Linked DNA regions of Homo sapiens. The protein of the gene in region 7 interacts with the protein of the main gene of each other region in a biochemical or structural test. Each region holds a gene or a part of one and is shown on either strand. Other genes may lie near its edges.

Region 1 (4,111 bases), on a different chromosome or scaffold from region 7:
CACTCCAGCCTGGGCAATAGAGTGAAACTCTGTCTTAAAAAAACAAAACAAAACAAAAATTAGCTGGTGTGGTGGTGCATGCCTGTAATCCCAGCTACTCGGGAGGCTGAGGAAGGAGAATAGCTTGAACCCAGGAGGCGGAGGTTGCAGTGAGGTGAGATCGCACCACTGCACTCCAGCCTGAGCGACAGAGCAAGACTCAGACTTGGAAAAAAAAAAAAATAGTGTACACATGCACAGAGGGATGCTGAAAATGGGGATTTTGGATCATATTTAATTTATTTTTTACACTTTTCTCTGTATTTTATGATAAGAATACACTGTTTTGTTTTTTGAGAGATGGAGTCTCACTGTGTCGCCCAGGCTGGAGTGCAGTGGCACCATCTCAGCTCACTGCAACCTCCACCTCCCAGGTTCAAGTGATTCTCCTGCCTCAGATTCCTGAGTAGCTGGAACTACAGACGTGCACCACTACTCCCGGCTAATTTTTGTATTTTTAGTAGAGACAGGGTTTCACTATGTGTTGGTCAGGCTGGTCTCGGAACTCCTGACCTCAGGTGATCCACCCGCCTCGGCCTCCCAAAGTGCTGGGATTACAGGCGTGGGCCACTGCGCCTGGCCCCATACATTGTTTTTATAATAGGAATAAAATTAAGCTATCTTCATTGTGAAACTGTAATACATGTTCCCTTGCCAAGGGCCTGAAGAATGTAAAGGTCACAGCCAAGGTCAGATGACTAAAGAAGTGACAAAATGAGGCACTGTTGCTCCTCCAGTAACTGGTCTCAAATCAGCATTCTGCTGTCAGCATCTGGGAGTAAAACCAGACAGGTCTCTTCCAGACTGCCATACCCTTCCTCTGCTCCAACCTAGCTCCCTGCAAATGCAAGCCACAAAATTCAATGCCTAGACCAATCTTCATTACAGTGTAAAGAAAGTTTACACTGTAAAGAAGGTTACACGCATGTCATAAGGTGATGCAACAAAGAAAAAAAGCAATCTCAGTCTGGCACAAGTTCAAAGCACTTGTCATTATCCTGTTAGTCAGGAAGCTCTTCCCCTAGAATACCCTACACTGCTTCTTCCCATCTCCAGGCATAAGCTAAATTCCTCTATTCCCATGTCCTAGACTCCTGGAGAAAACAAGAAAACAAATTTCTTCCTGTCTGAGCTCTGGGTTCTGACTTCAACTTCAAGCTGCCTTATTAGCGGTCACCTGCCTCTTTAGCTGGGCAGGAAACCTACCCCACTCTGTCCGCGGCACTCCTCTGACTGCCTTTCTGGGGGCTTCTGGCACTTGTTCCTTGAACACCCATCTCACACTTTGAATTCCAGTCTCCCACACCTGTCTAACCTGGCCTTTTCTGGTGGTCTGCTCTCCAAATCCCTCCACTTAAGAGACCTCCTGCTGGCTGGGTGCAGTGGCTCACGCCTGTAATCCCAGCACTTTGGGAGGTCGAGGCGGGCGGATCACGAGGTCAGGAGATCGAGACCATCATGGCTAACACGGTGAAACCCCATCTCCACTAAAAAATATAAAAAAAGTAGCCGGGTGTGGTGGCGGGCACCAGTAGTCCCAGCTACTTCGGAGGCTGAGGCAGGAGAATCGCGTGAACCTGGGAGGCGGAGCTTGCAGTGAGCCGAGATTGCGCCACTGCACTCCAGCCTGGGCGGCGGAGTGAGACTCCATCTCAAAAAAATAAACAAATAAATAAATAAAGAGACCTCCTCCTGGGTTCCCCCTCATGTCTACCTTTAAACCAGAGCTAGAAAAATAGTGGACTGAAGCAGAATTCGGCTGAGACGTGTGTTTAGTTTCATTCAGTGCCAATATTAAGACGTTCTAGAGGCCCAGCACAGTGGCTCAGCCCTGTAATCCCGAGCAATTTGGGAAGACAAGACAGAAGGATTGCTTGAGGCCAGTAGTTTGAGACCAGCCTGGGCAATATAGAGAGACCACATCTCTAAAAATTAGCCAGGCATGGTGGTGCGTACCTGTAGTCCCTGATACATGGGAGGCTGAAGCCGGAGGATTCCTTGAGTCAGGAAGGTGGAGGCTGCAGTGAGCTATGGTTGTGTCACTGCACTCCAGCCTGGGTGACAGAATGAGACTCAAAAAATAAAAATAAAAAAAAATAATGAAGTTCTGGAGACTGCTTACACAATTTACCCAACGCCATTGAACTGTGCACTTTAAAATGGTTACGAAAGTAAATTTCATGTTATATGTATTTTATCATTATTTTTTAAAAAGTTGGCTGGGGGCGGTGGCTCACGCCTGTAATCCCAGCACTTTGGGAGGCCGAGGCAGGCAGATCACAAGGTCAGGAGATAGAGACCATCGTGGCTAACACGGTGAAACCCCATCTCTACTAAAAATACAAAAATTAGCCAGGCGTGGCAGCATGCACCTGCAGTCCCAGCTGCTGGGGAGGCTGAGGCAGGAGAATGGCATGAATCCGGGAGGCGGAGCTTGCAGTGAGCCAAGATTGCGCCACTGCACTCCAGCCTGGGTGACAGAGCGAGAGTCCGCCTCAAAAAAAAAACACTTTTAAATGGTTAAGGTGATACATTTTATGTTACGTGTATTTTACAATTTTTTTTAAAACTCAAGATATATGACATTTAAAAAATGAGGATTTGTGTCTTTGTTTGAGAAAAATCACATCTGATATCAAAAGACCTACATTTTTGCACAACAGTCATCTCTAGTTTACCCCTGACCCTACCACCATACATTCTTTTTTTTTTTTTTTCCACTCTGGCTTCTGGAGCCCTATAAGTTTGTGACTCCTGCTCTAAACCCAGTGTCACTTTTCACAGCACAGCCCTCCAATGTCAGCCACCAGCTGGGCTGGCTAAAGGTCCTAGAGGGGACGACACACTCACCCCTCAGCAATGGATGATAAACTCTAGCACAACAAAGACCATTCCCAAGAACTCTGTGCCAAACCTCACCCAGTCACACTATGTCTTTCCTTCTTTTCTCTCCATTTATCTAATACTGCTCCTCCTCGCTCATCCATGGAGTCTTCTTTATTGACTCCAATTCACAAGGGGTTCTTCCTTCTTTCACATTCTGTAGCACTTGGCATCTGTATTGTTAATTACCTCGTATGTATACATCCCATCTGCTCAATTACACTTCAAGCCCCTCACTCATTCAACAAATATAAAGCAGCTACTCTAGGCCAAACTTTGTTCCAGGCACTGGGAATAGGATGGTGAACCAGAAAGGAAAGGTCCCTGCCATCAGTGGGCAAACATACAAATAAGCATCAGATCTCAGACACCCATCAACACTTGGGGGAAACATGAAGCAGGGTAATGATACAGGGAATGACGGTGGAGGAGTGGGATCTACGTTATGAGTAAGGACAACCAGCGAAAGCCTCTTTGAAGAGGTAGAATCAGCAAAGACCTGCAGAGAAGACGCCAGCCATGAGAAGACCATGGGGGAAAAGCACTCCAGTCAAAGGGAACAGCAATTACAGAGACCCGGTTTCAGGAATAGAAACAGCTGGTGTGGCTACAGCATAGAAGTGAGAAAAGACAATGGCGTAAGATGAGGTCAATGTGGTAAGAAGGGGCTTCAATTCTTTTTTTTTGAGATGGAGTCTCGCTCTGTTGCCCAGGCTGGAGTGCAGTGGCGTGATTTCGGCTCACTGCAACCTTCGCCTCCCGGGTTCAAGCGATTCTCCTGCCTCAGTGTCCCAAGTAGCTGGGACTACAGGCGCACACCACCACATCCAGCTAATTTTTTGTATCTTTAGTAGAGACGGGGTTTCACCATGTTGGCCAGGATGGTCTCCATCTCTTGACCTCGTGGTCAGCCCACCTTGGCCTCCCAAAGTGCTAGGATTACAGGCCTGAGCCACTGCGCCCAGCCCAGAAGGGGCTTCAATTCTATGGGTGATCAATAGTCTATATCTTCTAGTATTTTAAGGACAGGCATTAGAAAAATATATATCATCATCATTTACGTATTTGAAAATGCCCACAGTTAATTTTGATCCCAGTCCTCTTCCTGATGATTACTGGATGACATCAATATTCCTTTCATGCCTTCAACAAACACTCCTTATTTTTATTTTCTTTTATTATTATTATT
Region 2 (4,111 bases), on a different chromosome or scaffold from region 7:
AGAGACAGGGTTTCACCACATTGGCCAGGCTGGTCTGGAACTCCTGATCACCTTCTGCCCGCCTTGGCCTCCCAAAGTCCTGGGATTACAGGCATGAACCACAGTGCCCAACCCATAAAACAAACTCTTCTATCTTTACCTTAGATTAAAAATGGATTGGGCTGGGTGTGGTGGCTCACACCTGTAATCCCAGCACTTTGGGAGGCCAACTCGGGTGGATCACTTGAGGCCAGGAGTTCTTTAGTAAAAATACAAAAATTAGCTGTCTGTGGTGGTATGTGCCTGTGGTCCCAGCTACTCGGGAGACTGAGGCAGAAGAATCGTTTGAACCCAGGAGGTGGAGGTTGCAGTGAGCTGAGATCGAGACACTGCACTCCAGCCTGGGTGATGGAGTGAGACTCTTACCTCAAAAAAAAAAAAAAAAAAAAAAAAAGGTTAAAAATGGATTAATCTGCACTGTAAAATTTTAATAAACATATAACTTTCTACAATGCTTTCAAAAATTAAATTTATTAAAATGTTCAAAGATTCTTAATTTTACTTTTGTAAAAAGTCTCAGAAAATTTTTTAATGGCCTCAGTTAACTGTCAATTCTTGTCAACATAAGAGCCCCAAAAGCAGATAATCAAAATGTATAGGTAATTTGTCCAGTTGAGTTAATTCACTTTTTATACTTAAGAATTCTGTCAAAGTGTAACCCTGTTCCCTCAGAGAATATAAAATCTCTGTATACGAAATGCAGCCACTCTTTCCTCCATCACCTTAATTCTCTTGAGATCACCGGAGTCAACTATTACAAAGATCTTTAGGATAGCACATTTCCTTTCACATAACCATTCAGTCAAATGCAACTAGTACTTATTCACTTATTAATACTATCTGTAAAGCAGTATTAGGCATTTTTTGGGAGAAGCTACTCAAATGCCAAAAGCCTTATGCATGCAAAGCAGTCAACAATACAAGACCATATGTTAATAAATGCCAATTTAAATGATGCAGGCAATAAATACCACCAACTTTCACCATTTAACAAAGATTAAGGAGTCCAATCGTTATAGAAAGAAGGAATGTGTGATTTTACAAAGCAGTACCCAAGAGTTCTGTGACTGCAATATTTACCTTATTCTAGTCACTAACCTAACATTCGACAGGAAAAGAAATTCTCTGGATTTCAGTTCTCTCATCCATAAAAATACCAATCTACCTCAAAAAGTAGCTGGCAGAAGAACAAATGAAAATCAGTACCAAGCTCAATATTTAGAAAGTTCTAGAGAAACGTTTATGACAATGTTAAAAGACAATAGAGAGTACCATTCCAGAAGTATCCTTGACAAATGCAGATTAGTCCTATCTAGGTAAGTTTCAACAAGAAGCCACCATCTTTTAAAAAGAAAACAAGAAATAAAATAATAAGTGCTTATGATGCCTGCCACCAATGAATATAAAGCATTTCATAAATATCAATTAAATTCTATGACTGCCATGCCAAGGTTAAAAATTACATATGTAACAGAAGTTAAACTAAGGTTCCATTTCAATGACTAGCCAAAAAGTGCCATGCCAAACCAGCAACAAAGAACAATCCAAAAAGCCTTCACTGCAGTTAACTATTACGCTTACATAATACAGCATCTTTCTTCATGAAATACAGATTTCTCAAAATGTTTGACCTTCAATGACGAGGATTCAATTTACAGCTAAGCATCTTCTGGAGAACGGTAGGTCTGTCTTTTTTTCAGAACTCGTATTGTATACCACTAGTTTTATTTTAAATAGAACAACTTTCTAAGTAAAAAAAAAAAAAAAGTAATAGTTGTACTGTAGATGACATAATAAAAACAGTGGCAAAGAATTTCCACTTCAAAACTTAACTATTTCCCTCTTTCCAAAGCACATAAAAATAAGTTACCTGTCATAATGAAATATTTTCGTTAACAGGGACTTAGAGGCAAGTAAAAAATATTTTAGGACCACAAGCAGAAATGGCCAGCTTGGTTTAAAACCAACCGAGCCTCAAGTCCCTTTGGCAAAAGAGCGCATGACTCACTGCTTTAGAACTCAATGGGAAGATATTGAAAATTCACTCTGCCCTAATATTTTGCTTTGGGTTTTTTAAGACATCTTCATCTTATTTTTATTTATTTATTTATTTTTTGAGATGGAGTTTCGCTCTTGTTGCCCAGGCTGGAGCGTAATGGTGCGATCTCGGCTCATTGCAACCTCCACCTCCCGGGTTCAAGCAATTCTCCTGCCTTAGTCTCCCCAGTAGCTGGAACTACAGGTGTGCGCCACCATGCCCGGCTAATTTTTTTGTATTTTTAGTAGAGACGGGGTTTCACCATGTTGGCCATGCTGGTCTTGAACTCCTGACCTCAGGTGATCCACCCGCCTCGGCCTCCCAAAGTTCTGGGAGTGTAAGTGTGAGCCACCATGTCTGGCCAGACATCTTCATCTTAATGTTGACAATTTCTATAGCATCCATGACTTATTCACAAAGATGACAAATTATGAATAACATGAACCACATGTAAACAAGAGGGTCTTATTTTTGCTGGATACTTAAAATATAAGCCATAAAGTCTCATATACGCAGACAGACAGACAGACACACACACACACACACTTTCTGTCTCTCTGTTACTTAGTATACAACTGAGAGAGAAACATTTATATTATTTTTAAAAAATAGAAAATAGGGAAGGGTGTGGTGGCTCACATCTGTAATTCCAGAACTTTGAGAGGCAGAGGCGGGCGGATCACGAGGTCAGGAGTTCCAGACCAACCTGACCAACATGGTGAAACTCCATCTCTACTAAAAATACAAAAATTAGCCAGGTGTAGTGGCAGGCACCTGTAATCCCAACTACTCAAGAGGCTGAGACAGGAGAATCGCTTGAACCCAGAAGGCAGAGGTTGCAGTGAGCTGAGATCACCCCACTGCACTCTAGCCTGGGCAACAGAGCAAGACTTCCCCTCAAAAAAAAAAAAAAAAAAAAAAAAAGACACGGATGTTCTAGCTAGAAAAGCATAAATTATGATTCTGACTTTTCCTTCCCAGAAACATCTCAAAATCTCTTTACACTAGAGATATTTTATCTGGAAAAACAGGTAACAAAAAATTGTACTAAAAAATTCCTTCCAATCTCATTAAGAGTTCTATACAGAACTATGAATAATTTTAAAAATTAATCTCCAAATTAAGCCTAAGATTCTCCAACATGTATCAAGAAACACTACATACACTTGGAACTAAAGCTCCTTAAGTCAAATTATCTTAAGCTCCTGATTAACAACAATCTACTGAAAAATCACCACTCAGTGTGTGGGGTTTTGTTTGTTTGTTTTTGACAGAGTCTTGCTCTGTCGCCCAGGCTGGAGTACAGTGGCACGATCTCGGCTCACTGCAACCTCCGCCTCCCGGGTTCAATCTATTCTCCTGTCTCAGCCTCCCCAGCAGCTGGGATTACAGGCGCATGGCACAAGACATGGCTAATTTTTTTGTATTTTTAGTAGAGACGGGGTTTCACCATATTGGTCAGTCTGGTCTCGAACTCCTGACCTCAGGTGATCCACCTGCCTCGGCCTCCCAAAGTGCTGAGATTACAGGCGTGAACCACTGCACCTGGACCTTAGTGTGCTTTGATATTCTACAAACAGTAGGAATAGGGATATGTCAGACACATAATACAGTGAATTATCATTCCCAACCTTACTCATTTCCTCACCATAATAACCCTTCTACTTTCTAATCATATTAAAAAGAACAAAAGTGTAAAAATACATCATACACTGACAAGCATTCATAAGGCTAATCAAAGTCACATTTACCACCTATATGTGAAATTCTTTTGAAGATGTCTACTCATGTGAATGCTTGATACAGGGCATTAAAATGACCTACCCTAGCTTATGGCAGTATCTCACAAAAAGGTCCCTTTCAAAGAGCAACACAAGAGAAAAGATCTGAAGGGGCTTTCATGCAAATTATCTTATCCTTTTTTCCCCACCTTTTATGTTCACTATTTTAAAATCTCAAATAGATTTACTGTTTTAAGTAAAACAATTGTAGTATTTTTCTTAGATTATTGCAGTATTCCTGTACCCCCTATTT
Region 3 (4,111 bases), on a different chromosome or scaffold from region 7:
AAAAATCAACCTTTACCTTAAATCCTAATAGAAACACTCCCTTATTATGGAAAAATAACCTCTTTACTTCTCTCTACTCAAACAATGACACTAGAAATGTTTCTGAAGTTGTGACTGGGCTATGAATATGAACAAAGTTTTCATATCACTGGGATACTGGATGGTTTGAAAAGGAATGTACAAACAGGCCTGCTGCTAGTACAAAAGTGCCTTTTACATGAATTAGGAAAGCCTTCCCTTTCCTCAAGACACTTGATTACCAACAGGCAGAAAATTGTGATAATTAGCAAGCTGCAATACTACCAACGTAAATGGCTCTATTGAGTTGTGCACAATTAATTATACCCAGAGTTCTCTCATGATTCCTTATTCTATTGTCTTCTTTTCCTATGTGTATCTTAATTAAATCCATATCACAGCTAACGTTCTCTTAAGGCAAAAAAAAAAAAAAAAAGTGCTTTAAACAAAATTCCCTATATAATGACAGTTAAAAATATAAATATGCTATTATCAACAATAATAATGATGATACAACTTAATAATACAACTTTTTTAGAAAACAAAACAACTGGACATAATCTTTCCAATTCTAAGCTCTCTGAGATAAGACATCTGCATAAGACCTTGGCAGCTTTTATAGAAACCCAGAGCTAAAAGTAGGAGCATTTTTCCAATACCTAGAAATGTTTATTAGCTGCATCAGCAAATCATTATCCCAGAAGTCAAGGCCAACAGTCTTCCAAATTGTGCAGAGATGACTATAATGAGCCATACCATCAGCAGACTATGTTGCCAAATATTAAGACTGTTTAAAATCTTGAAAATTCTGTAAATTCACGGTGAATTGGAACCTCAAAAATCAAAAAATTCAAATTTACAAAAATAAATACCACTCTGACACTCAAGGGACATCTTCACTTTAAGGCCTTTGTCACAAATCTGAATCTTTATTGTTCTGAAATAAATGTTATAAACATAACTCAAAACAAAAACTTCAATATTCAGTCTAAGAAGAGGTGTGGCTCAATGCCCATCACATGTAACAAGAAAAACCTCCTTTAAAAAAAGGAAAAAAAAGTACTATGAGAAGTCTTTCATATGAATGAAAATGCACCCGTTGGATTTTTTTCCCCCTCATCACATTAGCTTGTATACACGTGGGAATTGAAAGGTTTGCATTTTCTTCACATAGTTCTTGCTATGATGTCTGACGGACTTTTTGCCACTCAACAAATTCATCAAGAAGAACAGGCCCTAGAAAAAAAGAAACCATTTTTGTCAGAATTCAGTGAACTCATCTCTCCAATTATAAAACAAACTCCCCACGAGCTCTGCAATGACAGAGGAATGACCCTTCCTTTCTTTGGGTGTTCTGCTTCTAGACACCTTATTCCATTTAATGGTGCTTTCTTATTAGCCTTTTCTTTTTTGCCCTTAAAGACACAAGGAACAATGGTATCTATAGCAACTTCCTTCTCAAGGTGTTTCATGAACCCTCCAGTAACTGAGTCAATACAAATCTCTCCCTTTTTCTAAGTGTCCATAGCATTCTGGCATTTAATTATGAAACAATCTGAAAAGTGTTGAAGGTAATATTTCTATGTTGCCTCCCCAAGAAGTGTACAAGCTTGTTGAGAGGGATCAGCCATAATAGAGACTTACTTTATTCCAATAACAGGATGTAGTACAAAGCTGAACACAAAGCAAGTGCCTAATGAATATCTAATTAATGAGCTAAGTACTATTCTAAAACATATATTTTTATAACGTAGGGGAGGTCCAAACTCATTTGCTGACAGAGCCAAGTAGGCAGTTTAAATGAGCTCAGTGTTTATTTTGTTTAAATGTAGGAAAAAAATCACCGCCACAAAGAAATATGCTTGCTTTATTCTTCTTAAAACACATAATCCTCTGGTGGTCTTTTTCCATTGCTTTTGACAGACATGTTTCTCTATCGTAAGAAAAGCAGCAGAGCACATATGATAATAAATGGCAACTGAAAAACAGCCTAGGTGTTGGCATACCATGAACTGTCAAACTGAAAAGCAAGTCCAACACAGTTAACACTTGACTCCAGCCTCTGACTCCTATAAAGGAGTACTATAAAGGTACAGTTTTGTCAGACTTTTTAAATTTTTCCAACAAATCTAAATGTTGTATTTTAATACAAAATCTCCTAGTTTTAAATGCTGATACAAAATACATAAATATACACATCTACGGGCCATATACAGCCTTTGGGCTGCCAGGTTACTGCTGCTAGGTATTATTTCTTTAAAATAATACTAAATTTTATACCATCTTGTAGAGAGAGGACAAAATATATGTGGGAAGAAATAAAGTTATCCCTTCTTCTGTTATTTTATTTTTTCAGTGTCACAGAAAAAAGTGTATAATTTCAGTTTAAGTTTATAGGAATGTACCTTTCCTTGTAACCCTTCTGAACACTGAAAACACATGCAACCAACCAAAATGGTGGTTGGAACTGAAAAAAATTTATAGTTCTACAGAATTAACTTGGTTTATCTAATTAATTTATCATTATTTCAAAATCCTGTTTTATGGCATTCTAGCCTTTCCATGGAGGAGTATGGACAGATATTTTAACTTGACGGATTGAAAAATTATAACTATTTCACTATCAGTTAGCTCACAATCAATTTATAGTTTTCAGAGAGAAGTTATACTGACATTATTTGCCATATTGTTAATGGGTAGCATAATATTACAATAATGTTAAAGCTTTTTCTATTGTGGCTGATTGTTTTGCTGTTATATTTTTAAAATCATGACTGTACTTTTCTTCCATAGGCAAATGCCAGGAAAGACAGAAACAAAGCTGAATTTTAGCTTCTGGATGCAAAAATTATAATTTAAATTTAGCTAAAATGTTTGGTTGCCGAGGAACTGAAAACATTTCATTTACCAGCATAGATTTTATATAATACTGCTGAATCTAAGCTCTCTCTCTACTTCTCCCACAATCCCTCACACAATTAAATAAGTTACTATTACAAAGTTTAAAACCTCTATGCTAATACTACACAAATGCATACTCTCATTTAATATTTTTGGAAATTTTGTTTTCAAAGGAACATGTTATGTTATACTTACAAGCACCATCTTCATCATAGTTACTAAGATCAGCATGGACTGTTCTGCTGAATTCTAATACATTGTACCATTGATCTTTGTTCATAACACGATACTTTGATTGCTGCAAAAATGATTTAAATATTTGTATTTAAATATTTAAACAAACATCATTTACTCAATTTAGTAAACTAAGTTTTAACTGTTTTTGTGATTTGGTTTTTTCTAAAACATTTACTATTTTTTTAATTATTTGTGTTTCTAAGAGATTCCTCATGGGCATTTACATATTAACATAATCTATTTTTTACTTTTTTTTTCATTTTTGAGGAATAATAAGAGCACTGAGTACTAACAGTAAGGATAAAACTAACTTTTTCATATGTATATACTTGTGTTACCACCAATGAGATCAAGATATATAACATTTCCTACATCCAGTATGTTCTATTGTGCTGCTTCCTAGTAAATCATTTCTTTGCTCAAGATTTACTGTTTAGCCACATTTTGAGTTTGGCATCTTTGGAAACAAGTGAAAGAGTATAGGCTTCGATTTAAATCCCACCCTTGCCACTTAATTGAGTGATTTTGGGAAAGTTACTTAAGAATAGAAACCACCTCCTCATTTGTTAAATGGGGATAGAATTTAATTCAAAATGGTATTATAAAGATTTTTAAAAATATATGCCAAACAACCTGCACATAACAAGTGTCTGAAAATATTTAGTTCTTCTCAGCTCCCCATAGAGCTGAATATTTTTACATTCAGTTAAATTTATTTTTGCCCAAAACTACTAATAGGAAGAAAATAGATACCATCCATCAAAAATAATTTATAGGACTTACAGATTGAATCATGCGTAAAACTCATTCATGTAAGACCTTTTCATATCATTGTCTCTTTTTTTTTTTTTCTGAGACAGAGTCTCGTTCTGTCACCCAGGCTGGAGTGTAGTGGTGCAATCTCAGCTTACTGCAACCTCCACCTCCCTGGTTCAAGCAATTCTCGTGCCTCAGC
Region 4 (4,111 bases), on a different chromosome or scaffold from region 7:
TTTTGACAAATGCTACCCCTTAGATGAATCTCGAGGACATCATACTAAGTAAAACAAACCAGTCGCAAAAAGACAAATATGATTCCACTTACGTAAGGTATTTCGTTAGAGTAGTAAAATACATAGAAACTGAAAGTAAAATGGTCGTTACCAGTGGCTGAGAAAGGGGGAAATGAGGAGTTGTTGTTCAGTATGTACAGTTTCAGTTTTGCAAGATGAAAAAGTTCTGGAGATTGTTTCCACAGCAATGTGAATCTACTTAACTAACTATACATTTAAAAATGATTTAAGATGGTAAATTTTATGTTATTCATTGCATTTTCAGCCAAAATGTTTACATATATATTATACATACACATACATATACATATATATATATTTTTTTTTTTTGGAGACAGAGTCTTGCACTGTTGCCCAGGCTGAAGTACAGTGGTGAAATCTTGAGCCTTGAACTCCCAGGCTCAAGTGATCCTCCCACCTCAGCTTCCCAAGTAGCTGGGATTACAGGCATGTGCCAAAGCACCTGGCTATATATCCTGTTTCTTAAAAACACCTTCCTAAGGTGGTATGAAACAGACCAATTGCTATAATTTTTATTTATTTCATTTTTCATTATTTTTTTTCCATTATAAGCCCTGTAAACACAAGAGCTCACAAAACTGGTTAACAACTCAGTTGTTCTTCTCCACAGAAATTTTTTTAGAGACAGGGTTTTGTTACGTTGCACAGGCTAGTCTCAAACTCCTGGCTTCAAGTGATCCTCTTGCCTTGGTGGCCCAAAGTGTTGGGATTACTGGATGTGAGCCCCAGCACCCGGCCTCCACAAAATCTTTAGTACAAGGCAAAAGATTCACACAATCTTAAAAGAAACCAAAGTAAACCAACATATATAGTACATACCATAATTTCTTTCTTTTATTTTTTTTATTTTTTATTTTTTTTGAGACAGTCTTGCTCTGTCGCCCAGGCTGGAATACAGTGCTGCAATCTCGGCTCACTGCAACCTCTGCCTCCCAGGTTCAAGTGATTCTCCTGCCTCAGCCTCCTGAGTAGCTGGGATTACAGGCGCACGCCACCACACCCGGCTAATTTTTTTGTATTTTTAGTAGAGATGGGGTTTCACCATGTTCGTCAGGCTGGTCTCAAACTCCTGACCTGATGATCCACCCGCCTCAGCCTCCCAAAGTGCTGGGATTACAGGCTTAAGCCACATCGCCCAGCCTATTCCTTTCTTTTTTTTAAGGGACGATATCTGACTTTGTTGCCCAGGCTGGCCTTGAATAACTGGACTCAAGCAATCCTCCCGCCTTAGCCTCTGAAGTAGCTGGAGTACCAGTATGCACCACCATGCCCTATAATTTAAAAAAACCCAACAACATTCCACACTTTGGACTGCAAAAGGAAAAACCTAAGCTTAGAAACACTTTATTTCCAAAAGCATGATGAGAAACGGCAAACACTCCATGGGGATATCTCACACAATACGAACTCGACTAAACTGGAAACAAATACTTTTAAGTAGGTGGTACTTTCTAAACCATAAACTTAAGAAAACAAAACAAAAAACTTTCATTCAACTCTTTCATCCCTTACTGTCTGAATCTATACCTTATTGTCAAAAAACTTACCTCTTTATCAAAGTTTGCTTTGGTGAACTCCAATGAGTTCAGGAGTGCATTCGTAGCAGCTAGCTTCACATTATTACTAGGCTCTTCTTTCCTCATCCCCTGGATTATGGCAGTCAGAATCTCATTGGATTTATCTTGTAGCTGCTCTGGGTCCTGTAACAAGCAGAGAAGTGCAATGAATATACAGTCAGCCCTCTGCAGCCATGGGTTCCACATCTGTGGATTCAAACAACTATGGATTGAAAATATTTAGAGGAAAAAAAATGGATGGTTGCATCTGTACTGCACCAAAAGGTGCATGTACACCTTTTTTTCTTGTCATCATTCCCTTAATACAGTATACCAACTATTAATATAGCATTTACATTGAATTAGGTATTGTAAGTATTCTAGAGATGATTTAAAGTATATGGGAGGATGTGCATAGGTTATATGCAAATACTACACCATTTTATGTAACAGACTTGAACATCTGAGGATTTTGGTACCTGAGGAGGGTGCTGGAATCAATCCCCTCCAAAAGACTGCCATAAGGAGCTTCACGACAGAAGCAGTCCTTCTTCTGTTCTTAAGAGACAGGGTCTGTATTGCCCAGACTAAAGTGCAGTGGCTATTCACAGGCACTACCACAATGCACTGAACCCTCAAATTCCTGGGTTCAAGTGATCCTCCCACCTCAGCTTCCCAAGCAGCTGGGACTACAGGTGTAAGCCACTGTGCCTGGCTTAATTGGCAGTCCTTTTAACTGTAAAGTTCACTCAAGAAAGTATCATGAATTGGTGATCTTTCCCCACCCGTTTCCATTTGGGAATAACACTGCAAACCACCTGCAAAATGTCTCATGGTACTGGCAATCCAGAACTGAACAAAACCAAGTCAAACTCATCAACTTCATCTTTGACTTCTTAGCATAATGACTCTGGGTATGAGGTAATATTCGCTTTCCTCCCCACTTCTGTGCAAATGGAGATGGCAGTCTGTTCGTATTTTCCAGGCCATCTGTACTCTAAAGTAAAGCTTCAGGGCATTTAAGGGCCAAGGCCAAGGATCGACACCTAGGCACATCTAGGGAGTCTAAGTCTGGGTCAAGTGCTGTGGGCTCCTTTGCTTCATAAAGTCTATATATTAAAATACACACCAAGAGTGGTAACCTCATCAGGAACAACAGTGCTGGGGGGGCTACATCTAAAATACTGTGTCTCCAGTGGCTAAACCAACTACATCAAATGTTGGCAAAACTTTCCGTAATGTTGTAAATGAAAATGCGCCACAACATTCATGGTACATTCGGGATCTTAAGAAAAAAGACTGGGTCAGGGATAATCCAAATGAGAATATCCTCATTTTGTAAGTCTAGAATCTAAGACTCTTCAAACATAGACTTCTGTTTTCAGTTTGCGATCCTCAAGTTTCTTTACTTTAGGGCATGATTAGCAATGTGAAGACACAGGCCTAAGGGAAATAAATCAGTCTCACTTTCAAAACTGTGCAATTTAGCTTGGCTTTCTTCGTGATTCAATAAGGTAGTACTAATATCATTGATGTCACAGCTAGAGGCAATCAGAGGTATATAAACCAGATACATTAGGCAAGCACTTACTATATCTTGGCAAATATAACCGATGGCTTCCAATGTCGACTCCTTCATGTGCTCTGTGCTGTTGGGGTTTGTGACATTGGCCACCAGCTGAGGAATGAGTTCTGGCCACTGGTTTACTGGGATCTCTGCACAAGCAATACCAGCCACACACTGTGAGGCAGAACTAGGCCGGTAAGTTTCTGTACCCAATGTCTGCAAAACCTGCACCAAAAAAAAAGACAAAAGATACAAATTTCTAACACTATTTGACCACATTTTGCCCACCACCATACTTATATTAGTGTCTCTGAATTCTTTTTTTTCTTTCTTTCTTAAGACAGGGTCTCACTATGTTGCCCGGACTGGAGTGCAGTGGCACGATCACAGCTCACTGTAGCCTCAATCTCTACGGTGCAATCTATCCTCCCGCCTCAGGCTCCTGAGTAACTGAACTACAGGGGTGGATATGCTGACATGCCCAGCTATCTTTTGTTGAGACAGGGCATCACCATATTGCCCAGGCTCAAAAAAAAAAAAAGGAAAATACAAGGCCTCAGTCAGTTGTCCAGGGTGGAGTGTAGTAGCAAAACGATAGTGCAATGGCACAACGATACTGCAGCCTTGACCTCCCAGGCCTCCCTGAGTAGCTTAGACTACAGGCACATGCCATCACACCCAGCTAACTTTTTTGGGTTTTTAGTAGAGATGGGGGTCTCCCTATGTTGCCCAGGCTGGTCTCAAATTCCTGGCCTCCCAAAGTGCTAGGATTACAGGTGTGAGCCACTGTGCCCAGGCAGCTGTCTCAGAATTCTTTTTTTTTTTGAGACAAAGTCTCGCTCGTGTCCCCCAGGCTGGAGCATGATGGCGCGATCTCGGCTCACTGCAACCTCCGCCTTCTGGGTTC
Region 5 (4,111 bases), on a different chromosome or scaffold from region 7:
TTATTTATAAATCCAGAAACAAATAGTTACTTTTATTCTTTGGTTACTGTTTAATTGATAATTGAAAATTTGTTTATTTATTTTGAGATGGAGTTTTGCTCTTGTTGCCTAGGCCGGAGTGCAATGGCTTGATCTCAGACCATTGCAACCTCTGCCTCCTGGGTTCAAGTGATTCTCCTGCCTCAGCCTCCCAAGTAGCTGGGATTACAGGCACCTGCCACCACGCCCGGCTAAGTTTTGTATTTTTAGTAGAGACGGGGTTTCACCCTGTTGGCCAGGCTGGTCTTGAACTCCTGACCTCAGGTGATCCACCTGCCTCAGCCTCCTAAAGTGCTGGGATGACAGGTGTGAGCCACTGAGCCTGGTTATAATTGAAAATTTAATCATAAAATATTTTATACCACTTACACATTTAATCAAATTTCCTTGGGCATTTTTCACTACACTTAGAAGCGTACAGTTATTTTAATCACCTCAGCAGGGTTAACTTAGACAAACCTAACCATGAATTTTCTAAGACTAAACTTGTAAATAGATTTCAAATTTATTTTGTAATTTTTTTTACTCTATCAAACAAATAAATGTAACTCAGTAATTACAAAACTTGTTACTACATCAGAATATGTACTTGTATGAATATCAATGTATTATATGTATATATTTTATGTATATATGTTTGTATGTATATATTGCACATATTATATGTATATATACTTGTGTGAATACATTTGTACTTTCCTTTTTCTTCATCTTCGCTTGTTAACCTTCCTGGGTTATGACTTAATTACCCAAACTGGGAGGAGACTGGTATTACCATTTTAAGTACTCTACAGGATTAAGGAATCAGGTTATGATAGAAGATTATAGGCTATGACTTGGAACTTGGGTGCACTGCCAGATACTTTAAGTCTTAGGCTGAGCCTTTTTTAATAGTAAAACCCCTTTAAAACAAAAACCTCTTTTACAATTTTGTATTTCCCACAAGTCTTGAAACTAATCCCATTATCATTTAATTTTCACAGTGGAACTCTAAAAGACCCTTCCATCCTGAGGGTAGCTAATTTCTTTCCTCTATAGATTCTGTATTGTCCTTGACTATAGAGATCTATCATTCTATAGGTATTTCATTTGTAACTTGGGGACACTTAATGATCATGGTAGTGTGATTGATGAGCTACAGTCTAGCAATATAGCAGTGCAGGTAGAGACTAGAAACTTGGGAGCTGGACACGGAGGCTCACACCTGTAAACCAAGGTTTTGTAAACTTTTTTTCTACAGATGAGGTGTTGCTTATGTTGCCCAGGCTGCTCTCAAACCCCTGGCACCAAGTGATCCTCCCACCTCAGACTCTCAAGTCTCTGTGTAGCCTTAGCCACCACACTTGGCTTCAATTCTTATAAGAAGCAAAAGTAGGCCTGGCAAGGTGACTCATGCCTGTAATCCCAGCACTTTGGGAGGCCAATGCAGGTGGATCACTGAAGGTCAGGAGTTCGAGACTAGCCGGGCCAACATGGTGAAACCCCGTCTCTACTAAAAACACAAAAAGTAGCCAGGCATAGTGGTACATGTCTGTAATCCCAGCTACTCAGGAGGCTGAGGCAGGAGAACTGCATGAACCTGTGAGGCAGAGGTTGCAGTCAGCCAAGATTATACCACTGCACTCCAGCCTGGGCAACAGAATGACACCTTGTCTCAAAAAAAAAAAAAAAAAAAAGCAAAAGTACCAAAAATACTCTTGCCCCCAAATACAGGTTGGAATAACAGCATGGTCACAAGTTTAAGATAAATTGTGGCTTTACAAACACTAATACTAGAATCATCTAAAAAGCTTTTTAAAATACTGATGTCCAGTCCCACCACAAAGATTCTGATTTAACTGGTTTGGGGCATACTCTGGGCAACCAGATTTTATAAAGCTCCCCAGATGATTCTCATCTGAAGATGAAAACCACTAAGAAAAAGGAACAAGTTACCATCATAAGGAACAATAAGACAAATACAGAATGTAAAACATTCTACAGGATAAATGATTTGGTCTCCAGTAAATCAATGGCATAGAAACAAGACTATTCAAGATAAAAAGAGATTTAAGATAATCAGGGAAGGGGCAGGATGCGGTGAGTCACACCTATAATCCCAGCACTTTGGGAGGCCGAGGCGGGCAGGTCACAAGGTCAAGAGATGGAGACCATCCTGGCCCACATGGTGAACAGCCGTCTCTACTAAAACTACGAAAATTAGCTGGGCATAGTGGTGTGCGCCTGTAGTCCCAGCTACTTGGGAGGCTGAAGCAGGCAAATCGCTTGAACCCGGGAGGCAGAGGTTGCAGTGAGCCGAGATCACACCACTGCACTCCAGCCTGGCGACAGAGTGAGACTCCATCTCAAAAAAAAACAAAACAAAAATCAGGGAAGGTGTGGTGGCTCACACCTGTAATTCCAACTTTGGGAGGAGCATTTGAGACCAGCCTGGACAACATAGCGAGTCTTTTTCTCTAGGGGAAAAAAAAAAAACTTAGCCAGGTGTGGTGGCACATGCCTGTGGTCCCAGCTACTCAGGAGGTGGAGGGCTGAGGTGGGAAGATTGCTTGAGCCTGGGAAATGGAGGCTTCAGTGAGCTGTGATCACACCACTGCACCCCAGCCTGGGTAATAGAGTGAGACCCAGGGTGGGGCGGGGAGAGAATCAATCAGTCAATGCATGTATGGACCTTTCTCAAGACCAAATCAAACTAATTGTAAAAAGACACCCAGGGAGGCCGGGCGCGGTGGCTCACGCCTGTAATCCCAGCACTTTGGGAGGCAGAGGCAGGCGGATCATGAGGTCAGGAGATCGAGACCATCCTGGCTAACACAGTGAAACCCCGCCTCTACTAAAAATACAGAAAAATTAGCCGGGCGTGGTGGCGGACGCCTGTAGTCCCAGCTACTCGGGAGGCTGAGGCTGGAGAATGGCGTGAATCCGGGAGGCGGAGCTTGCAGTGAGCCGAGATCGCACCGCTGCACTCCAGCCTGGGCGACAGAGCGAGACTCCGTCTCAAAAAAAAAAAAAAAAAAAAGACACCCAGGGAACAAAAAGAAAATCTGGATATGGACTCTGTGATATTGGCACTTGATGATATAATAAGCAGTCCTTATTTTTTAGAGATGAACTCTGACAAACTTAGAGATGAAATGTAGTGTCTGGAATCTGCCTTAAAACATTCCAACACATTAACCAGTGAAATGAATGGCTTTCTGGAATTTGCTTAAAAACAAGGGAGCAGACAATATGCAACATTCTCTGATAATCACTGAAGTTGGAAAATGGGCACCTAGTGGGTGGGTCATTTATTCTATTATTTTTGTTTGAAGATGTCCATTGATAGTTTCTTAAAACATATGTATACCTCAAACAGAAACCAAAGTAAATATAGCAAGTTAGTAACTTTCAAAATTCAAATTTGTTGGCCAGGCGCAGTGGCTCACGCCTGTAATCCCAGCACTTTGGGACACAGAGGCGGGCAGATCACCTGAAGTTAGGAGTTCAAGACCAGCCTGGCCAACATGGTGAAACCCCTTCTCCACTAAAAATATAAAAATTAGCCAGGTGCCTGTAATCCCAGCACTTTGGGACACAGAGGCAGGCAGATCACCTGAAGTCAGGAGTTCGAGACCAGCCTGGCCAACAGGGTGAAACCCCATCTCTACTAAAAATACAAAAATTAGCCAGGTGCCTGTAATCCCAGCTACTGAGGAGGCTGAGGCAGGAGGATCACTTGAACCCAGGAGGCAGAGGTTGCAGTGAGCCGAGGCTGCTCCTCAAAACAGACTGTCTCAAAAAAAAAAATTATTATTATTCAAATTTGATGATATACAGCGGTGCATTACATTATTCTCATTTGTGTACATCTGAAATACTTCTTTTTTGTTGTTGCGTTTCGAGACAGGGTCTCGCTCACCTAGGCTGGAGCACAGTGGCTTGATCAGGGCTCACTACATCCTCAACCTCACTTTAGGCAGGTCTAGAACTCCTGGCCTCAAGCGTCCTGCCAAAGTGCTGGGATTACAGGTGTTAGCACCGCAGCTGGCCTGGAATACTTCTTAATAAGGTATTTTTAAAAGACTTTGAA
Region 6 (4,111 bases), on a different chromosome or scaffold from region 7:
GTCAATCTCTAGCATCGGCCTCCAGTCCCACCAGCAGATGACCGAGTCCAGATGCTCCTGCCTCTGTATCCTCCTCTCACTCTCCCTGGCTTTCCCTCAGCCTCCAGGAAGGATAGGGCTTGCCGGGCAGGCCCTGCTCTTACGTGGTCCATCGAAAGGTCAGGGACCTTTGTTTGCAGTGGTCCTTCTAGCTCTCTGCCAACCTTTCCCTGGCCCCTGGGTTTAAGCGGCTGACCTTGGCTTCCAGCTTGGGTCCAACCCAAACCAGAGAAGGCCTTTCACCCCCTGCAAATGATGTAATGGAGGTGTGTTGATGGGAGGTGCCACTGAAGCCAGGGGCGGCAAGCAAGGAGTCCTACCCTCTAGTGACCAAAGGCACACTGGGCTGCAGGTTTAGCCACCAAGTCCTGCCCCAGTTCAGGAAGAAGCAGATGTCCCCAGGTCCACTGTGAGCCTTTTTAATTGCATATACAACACAGCCAAGGAGAAGTTATTGTGTAAAGTTCAGTAGTCAAGGTGTGGCTGGGTCCAGACTCTGACGTTAAACGACGGAGCTGAAGTGGGGGGTGATGATGGTCGCCCCACAGCCTGCCTGCCAGCTCAGCGTCTCCCAGCGGGTAGCCAGCAGGCAGGTTAAAATCGTACAACCAAGAAGATGCCACCTACTTTCATTGCAGTTGGCTTCTCCAGAGCCAGGTTTGATGACTGGCAACGCTAAGCCACAAAGTGTCCAGAGGGTGGCAGCCACACCCTAGGCAGGTGTCCCCCTCCCACTCACCAGTATGAGGTTAAATCGGTCGCTTGCCAAGGCGGAGGGATCCATGCTTCGAATCTGGACCTTTTTCCTCTCCATGCAGCTGAGACGCAGCTCGTGGGCTAAACTGCAGAAACAGAGGGTGGGGGCATGGATGCTGAAGCTGACATCCATGAAGAAGATTCGGGGGTCTCTGGCCTTCCCTGCCCCGCTGACGCCCATCTCTCCTCGTCAGCCTGCTCCACAGTACTTCTCAGCAATGGAGCTGAGCAAGATCCCAGATTATCCGAATTTGAGTTTCCCCACAGAACGCTCAGGAAGATGAAAATGAAGAAGTGGGTGGCCCATTTGCAGAGTCAAAGAGTGGGAGTTAGAGGGAGTTGTGTCTGCATCATTCAGTACAGCTCCTTCCCCTGAGATGACGAAAGTGCGGGAGATGAAACAATGGTCTGGAGGGCACTCCGCTGCTGGGAAGAGCCCCAGGATACGGCTGCCGGGAAGAGCCCCAGGATACGGCCGCCTCTTGTTTCGCAGGGTGAGGAACAGATCTAACTAGATTTTTAACTTTCTGTCTCAGAAGGAGGAAAACAGGAGGGGCCTGCCCTGCCTGATACCTACGGTGTTTCTGGCCTTCCCTGAAGGGGCCCTGCTCCAAGGTCCGAGGGCTGTGCCCCAGGAAGCTGCCTCAAATGCAGGTTCTTCACTTGAGCATGTACAGTGGGGGCAGGAGACGCAGCGCTGGGCGCTCAGGTGTTGGAGTCAGACAGTTCCCCACTTCTAGCTTTACCTTGAGCAAATCACTCCACTCTGAGCCTCAGTCTCTTCTTCAGGAAATGGGGGAAAGTATCGGCCTATTTCACAGGGTTTTAGTTAGAATTGTATCAGCCATCATAAGTACTTTGATAAGGTTTAGTACACACACATCCACTTAATGCCCCATTGTTGGTGACAACTCATTAGAAGGGAAAGAAGGATGCAGAAATGTCATGGGAATGAAGTTGTAGGAGCTTCTACTAGAATGACTTACGAGTAACAGAGAATAGACATCTCTGCCTACGTCCCCATCCTCTCTCCCTATCCTCCTGCAAGAGTCCCCCGCCTTCGCTCTAGAGAGAACAGCTTTCTCAGGGTGGGTTTAAGCAGCAGAAGGCAGGGTGTGAACTGGAGCCCCTCAACTGTGCAGGTGCTTCACGGGGTAGCCACATGGTCTATCCAGACTGGATTCTTATACCATGAAAATAAGAAACAGGAAAAGAACATTCATGAAGAAAACATAACAAAGAGGCATTGTCTTACTGGCAGTAATTGGTGACGTTGAGAAAACCCAGCTGGCTTTTTCGTAGCATGGAAGATGCATTAAATCCCATCCTGGCAATCTATATTTATTACAAAAAAGAGAACAATTCAATGAAGATTTATTTGTTAGGGGATGATGGAGAATGTTTTTAGTTCCATAGGATGTAATGAAGGAAACAGGCACTAAATTGGCAGAAATTATATGCATAAAAATCTGACGGTGTCCTTTCCAAGTCTCCCTTCCTCGGCAAGAGGAAAGGCCCAGCAGAAGAAAGTGTGAGTGGGAAAGTCTGCTCGTCAACTCTGCCCACGCTCCCCATCCACATACACCCGGGGGGACGAAGCCACCAGGTGCGTGAGTGCAGCAATGGGACTGCAAACAGGTCTGCACCACTCTCCATTCCACCCGTGGTGACCCAGGGCTGGAACTTTACATTCCATTGCCTACCTTGACAACAAAATATGTTAGCGTCTAGACCTGTTGGTCTGTATTGCAAACAGACAAGATGGCCTGTATTCCAAACCATGCATCCTGGTCTTCTATTTAAAATAGACAGCTGGGATGGGCATGGTGGCTCACACCTCTAATCCCACACTTTGGGAGGCCAAGGTGGGCGGATTACTTGAGGCCAGGAGTTCGAGACCAGCCTGGCCAACATGGTGAAACTCCATCTCTATAAAAAAAATACAAAAATTAGCTGGGCATGGTGGCAGGTTCCTGTAATCCCAGCTACTTGGGAGGCTGAGGCAGGAGGATCACTTGAACCTGGGAGGCAGAGGTTGCAGTGAGCCGAGATGGCGCCACTGCACTCCAGCCTGGGCAACAGAGTGGGACCCTGTCTCAAAAAAACCCCAAAAAACAGTTACTAAAATTATATCACACTGCCTCCCAAGATTCCTTCAGGAATGACAAAATGTTAGAACTGCTGAAGAAGGCTGGGTGTGGTGGCTCACGCCTGTAATCCCAGCACTTTGGGAGGCTGAGGCAGGCAGATCACTTGAAGTCAGGAGTTCAAGACCAACCTGGCCAACATGGTGAAACCCTGTCTCTACTAAAAATAAAAAAATTAGCTGGGCATGGTGGCACGTGCCTGTAGTCCCAGCTACTCAGGAGGCTGAGGCAGGAGAATTGCTTGAATCTGGGAGGTGGAGGTTGCACTGAGCTGAGATCATGCCACTGTACTCCAGCCTGGGCAACAGAGTGAGATTCCGCCTCAAAAAAAAAAAAAAAAACAACTTATCGAACAAGAAAACGGGGATGGAAGAAGGGGGCTCTTGGCTGTTCTTATTCTTGTCTTCTTCCTGTCAGGGAAAAGCTAGGGCCACACCCCCTGAAGTGCCTCTGCTAAGTGTCGCAGGGGCATCTAATTGGCACCCTTTTCAACAGTGGATGGACAGGTGCTGGCAGGAGCGGAGAGGACAGGGGGCGAAGGGGTGAGGAGCCCACCTTTTTCCGTCTGTCTTCTTCCTGGAGCAGCCGCAGTCTCTTGCTCTCCATCTCCTTCTGCCGGATGCTCTCTTTCGTCAGGGGGTTGCAGTTGTTATGTCCAGGGAGCAAGCGGAAGTAGCGTTTCTTTTCAGGGTCAAAGTAAAACCCAGGTAGCTCTTTAGACAAAAAAATTAAATGCACCAATTTCAACCACTGTGAACTGACCACCTGAGTTGGGCGCCCAGTGGCCTGTCCCCCCACCTCGTGGCTGCCTGTCTTTTCTGAGGGCGGGGATGAGCTGCCTTGTCAGGCAACATCCTGGACTGTGCTCAGTCCTGGGGGAGGCGGTTTGCCTCATGACCACCATTCCTGACGCACCCAGCTCCTTCCCTGAGTGTTTCAATTTGCTCCTGGAATTCCTTCCAAGCCAGGAACGGGTCTCAGCCTTCCCTGTGTGCAAGGGCCAGGATTCCCACCCCGCAAGTGGCCTTACCTGGCACAGAGGAGGTCCCAGCTGTGCCAGACGAGGTTGACGGAGACTCGTCATCACCGTGGCCGGAATCGTGAGCGGGCTGTGCTGCCCGGGAGTCAGACCTGTTGACACACAGCTGTGTTAACTTGCAGCCCAGGAC
Region 7 (4,111 bases):
GGCCTTCATAATCATCTCCATGGAGGATTCTCAATATCTATCTGTCTAGCCTTAATCCCTTTTATGGGCTTCAGTCCTGGACTAGACAGTTTACCAGGAGTCAGGATAGATTTAATCAAGGACCCATCATTTAGCAATCCCACCTATGGGTGAAATATGTGCAAGAATTCTTAATAGCTAGGTAGAGTGAGGGGTATAACCTGGGAAGATGGAAGAAGAGCCAGGGAAATTGACCCTGAACCCAGAAATTTGGCATTATTAGCTATGTGCTTAACTGGACTTCTAAGTACAAAAGTAAAACATTAAAGCAGTTGGTATTTGGTGTTGGTGCGCTTACTGACATACACTTTTAAAAGTATCCATGCCAAGCCTGGTGACTTACACCTGTAATCCCAGCACTTCGGAAGGCTGAGGCGGGGGGGATCACTTGAGCCCAAGAGTTCAAGACCAGCCTGAGCAATACAGCGAGACCCTGGGTCTCTATTTTTTTCTAAGTATCTATTTTTAAATGACAAGCAAAATGGAAATGCTATGATTTCTATGCCTATAACTCAGTTCTAAACAGTAACTCTTACCTCTGGTGGTAAATGAACTTCCATAGGCACATATGTCGGCCAATAGCCCATTGTCAGGATATTCACAGTTAACTCAATATTTCCCGGAACATTCTGATTCTGCATATACTATAAGAAGATCAAAACACACACTGAGATCTTAAAACTGCATACATTTCATATCATAATAACCTATTTAAGAAGTTCCCTGTTATGAAATTACATGCAAACACTGACCATCCTTAAAATAAAAGGCAACTATTAAGAAGACTTTAAATGAAACCTACACAAAATGCACTAGGCAAGTACAGAGGTTAACATTTTGATACAAAGGCATACAAGGATCACATGACCTCATTACAGGCGTTATCAACTTAAATAATTTCTCACATACAGCTGGGCCGTTATAGGATCTCTTCTCCATTCTTTTCCCCAATACCACCTGCAGTCCCCACCTTTGAATACCCCTATGTGGCTTAAACACCTTGCAGCAACCCCCATTCCTCACCCCCCAGCCAGCCCAAGTCTCCAGTTTTTCACTTGCTCCACTGCCTGTCTGCAGGGAGTGACCTGGAGTAGGGAAGGAAAAAGAGGGGAAAAGGGCAAAGCAGATAAGCCCTATTCTGTAGCTACTATAGAATCCATAATCTTACTGACCCTGATTTTTTCTTAATTCTTTCACTTCCACTTCCCACCTTAGCAACACTGTGGGGTAAAGAAGTCACTACTAAAACCCAAAAGAGGAAAATCTAATTTGCCATCATTATCACCTATGATCTTAAACATTTCAAAACTACTTTCTACCTACATCTTCAAAACTGTGGATCTAGCTTTCTATCCCCAATGTCCCCAAAGGCTTTTATACAGCTGCATTATCACTTCTCCTCTCTCCCCATTGCAAGCTCTGAACATGCAAATTACCAAACGATAAGATGCTGAGGAAAGCCCTTTTCCCACTATAGCTCTTCTTGTACTGACTTCAGTTCAATACATTTTATTTTTATTTTTGTGTTATTCTGGGTGTTTGTCAAAAATAAATCCTAAAGTAGGTCAAATATACTTATATTTCACCAATTTTTTTTTCTACTGTGAATATCACCTCAGTTGCCATGAATTACAACAAACACGTTTCTATTTATCCTCTTTAGTACAAATCATAGCAAGCAGATAACTAAATACAACTAAGTTTGAGGAATTAAGAGTTTAACTCACTTTTACCTGTTTGAACTGAATCATGATGTCTTTAGAAAGTTCCATGTCTTTAAACATTCCTTCAAGTTTGCTGGTGAAAGCAGCTCCGCATTCTATTAAAGATGTTTGTACATGTATAATATTTTAAAGTGGTAAAAACAAAAGAGGTTTAAAAGTGGGAAACACGAAATACAAAACTTTAGTATGAAGTATGATCTGTAACTTTCATAAGAATAAAAAGAAATCCTTACCCCAAAGTGTATGCCCCATTAATTCAGAGTCAAACTCTTTAATCCTGTAGTAACCTTATCTACTATTTAGGTATAAAATAAATGGGAAATTTTTATACAAATAATAAAACCAAGAACAATGCTTTATCTTAAAAAAAACAACTCTGGATATTATGTACAATAAGTTGGAAACCTCAGGAGCTTGCTCAATTTATGTTTTCATCATATATACATAGACATGAGTGACAAAAGAGGAAATCGATTGAAAGGGTAAAAAGCTAACATTCTCCTTCAGGAATCAAAGAAAAGGAACAGAAAGAATGAGAAACCTACCATGTTTAAGTTTGGACAGCATTGATTTTTCAGCATCTACAGATGCACTCTTTCCGACTAACAGGCGCTTGGCTAAATCTTTCTTATAGAAGGCCTCAAAAACATCCTTGCCTATGTAAAAAGAAATGCAAAATTTATAATATTCCAATAAAAAGTACTGACAAAACTGCTTTAAAGTGCTTTAATAAAGCACACCATTATTCCAAGTTATTTTACTTTACACATTTTATTTAAGTTTGTTAAATGCAAGAAACAGTAGAGATCCATTTTTGTGCCAGACATTTCGAAGTCTTTATTGTAAAACTTTTTTGCATGTAACTGTCTTGATTGCATTAACTTTTCTTCAGAAAAGCTTTTGTGGACTGGTAGCTTTGGTGCCAATATTTAAGAGATTAAGCCAAGTAGCAAAAATCAAGGCACTTAATACTAGAAGAGCCAAAGCATAGGACAATCAGGTAACATTCCTCACGTATCCCCCCAATGAATTAAACACAATTTTAAATCTGTAATTTCCAAATAAATATTCCCTCCAGTTTGAATATACTTGCTAGCTTCTCTGTTGAGTGCTATTTTAAAAGAAAAATATTAAAACATTAGTAAATACTTACCATAGATAAATCTAAATATGATCATAATTTTATCCAACATTTTCTCAAGTTCTTCATCTGTAGCTTCTTTGTTGCCTGCACGAAGTTTTGAATCTACATACTTAGCTAAAATGGGGGAAAAGTTTGTTGTTTAATAACCGGGGAATACACGAGGTACTGGGCACTATATATACCCAAAGAGGAGTATGATACACTGAGTTTTTCAATACTTCAGAAATTTATATGCATTTTTAAAAGTCTCCAAAGTCAGGAAGATCAACTGACTTGTTCAGTGCCATAGAGCTAATAACATCAGGGCCTGAACACAAACCCAAGTGTTCTGACTCCAGATCAAATGTACTTCCCACTATACTGATGTTTATGAAAATAGGATACGGATATCCTGTGGGGGAGGTCTCATGTAGCCCTGTGAGGGCATCATGTAATCCAAGCCACGAAAAGACATGAGGAATCTTCTGGAGTATCCATTTTATAGGAATAGTAAGCAATCTTAAACATTACTTTTCTATTAAAATAAACCAGATACATCGTAGAGTAGAAGGTAAAATTTGCTACATGTTTACGGATACATAGTAGATAGGTTGCAACAAAATTTCATCCTTTTGGCAGAGGACCCTAGACCTTCTCAGGTTACCTCCTCCTCTGACACTAAGGGTACTTGGGTGGAAAAACCTGAGAAGCACTGTAGTGTATATCACATCCTTATGCTAAATGGGCCCAGATTATTAGGTTTATTTTTGCCCTGGACTTTTTTCTTTTTCACTGACAACTGTAATTTCATGCTGCCCTTTTTTGTAGCTTGAAATAACACCCTGCCTCATTTTTAAATCATTAGGCTAGGAAAACAGATTAGCTTATTATCAATAAAGGTAAATAGTGTCCAACGTACTGTCTTTGAAAGAAAGCACATTATGTTTGACATGTGGGCTTTCAGTACTTACATCCAGGTTTTTAGAAACACTCTTCAAACTTGATATACCAGCTAAGCAACCTCAAACAAATCAGGAATTAGTAATACTACAACCTGGTAAAAATTTCAGATTGAGATTTTATGACTCAAAGAACATCATTAAACAACTGGAAAAAGGACTGGAAAACATACCTATAAGTTCAGCTGGTTTATTTGGTCTTTTGTTAATGAACGTTTCAAATGCTTCTTTCATGGCATTGATAAATTTCTCATTCTTCAGAAAGC

The links.
Region 1: the proteins of CUL4B (region 7) and DDB2 form a complex in vitro, tested with the Homo sapiens proteins (one study listed by BioGRID).
Region 2: the proteins of CUL4B (region 7) and PAFAH1B1 form a complex in vitro, tested with the Homo sapiens proteins (one study listed by BioGRID).
Region 3: the proteins of CUL4B (region 7) and DCUN1D5 form a complex in vitro, tested with the Homo sapiens proteins (one study listed by BioGRID).
Region 4: the proteins of CUL4B (region 7) and KPNB1 form a complex in vitro, tested with the Homo sapiens proteins (one study listed by BioGRID).
Region 5: the proteins of CUL4B (region 7) and BRWD1 form a complex in vitro, tested with the Homo sapiens proteins (one study listed by BioGRID).
Region 6: the proteins of CUL4B (region 7) and DCAF4 form a complex in vitro, tested with the Homo sapiens proteins (one study listed by BioGRID).

Annotation. Positions count from the first base shown.
Region 1 is NC_000011.10:47,217,388-47,221,498, reverse strand, and holds part of DDB2 (DNA damage-binding protein 2), read right to left. Parts: intron 1-4,111.
Region 2 is NC_000017.11:2,596,294-2,600,404, reverse strand, and holds part of PAFAH1B1 (platelet-activating factor acetylhydrolase IB subunit beta), read right to left. Parts: intron 1-4,111. UniProt on the Homo sapiens protein: Regulatory subunit (beta subunit) of the cytosolic type I platelet-activating factor (PAF) acetylhydrolase (PAF-AH (I)), an enzyme that catalyzes the hydrolyze of the acetyl group at the sn-2 position of PAF and its analogs and participates in PAF inactivation.
Region 3 is NC_000011.10:103,061,161-103,065,271, forward strand, and holds part of DCUN1D5 (DCN1-like protein 5), read right to left. Parts: intron 3,218-4,111; coding exon 3,115-3,217; intron 1,255-3,114; coding exon 1,199-1,254; 3' UTR 1-1,198. UniProt on the Homo sapiens protein: Contributes to the neddylation of all cullins by transferring NEDD8 from N-terminally acetylated NEDD8-conjugating E2s enzyme to different cullin C-terminal domain-RBX complexes which is necessary for the activation of cullin-RING E3 ubiquitin ligases (CRLs).
Region 4 is NC_000017.11:47,656,178-47,660,288, reverse strand, and holds part of KPNB1 (importin subunit beta-1), read right to left. Parts: intron 3,430-4,111; coding exon 3,229-3,429; intron 1,782-3,228; coding exon 1,629-1,781; intron 1-1,628.
Region 5 is NC_000021.9:39,306,787-39,310,897, forward strand, and holds part of BRWD1 (bromodomain and WD repeat-containing protein 1), read right to left. Parts: intron 1-4,111. UniProt on the Homo sapiens protein: May be a transcriptional activator. May be involved in chromatin remodeling. Plays a role in the regulation of cell morphology and cytoskeletal organization. Required in the control of cell shape.
Region 6 is NC_000014.9:72,939,764-72,943,874, reverse strand, and holds part of DCAF4 (DDB1- and CUL4-associated factor 4), read right to left. Parts: intron 4,074-4,111; coding exon 3,973-4,073; intron 3,656-3,972; coding exon 3,498-3,655; intron 2,131-3,497; coding exon 2,051-2,130; intron 882-2,050; coding exon 779-881; intron 1-778. UniProt on the Homo sapiens protein: May function as a substrate receptor for CUL4-DDB1 E3 ubiquitin-protein ligase complex.
Region 7 is NC_000023.11:120,536,352-120,540,462, forward strand, and holds part of CUL4B (cullin-4B), read right to left. Parts: coding exon 4,019-4,111; intron 3,022-4,018; coding exon 2,917-3,021; intron 2,420-2,916; coding exon 2,309-2,419; intron 1,859-2,308; coding exon 1,773-1,858; intron 684-1,772; coding exon 576-683; intron 1-575.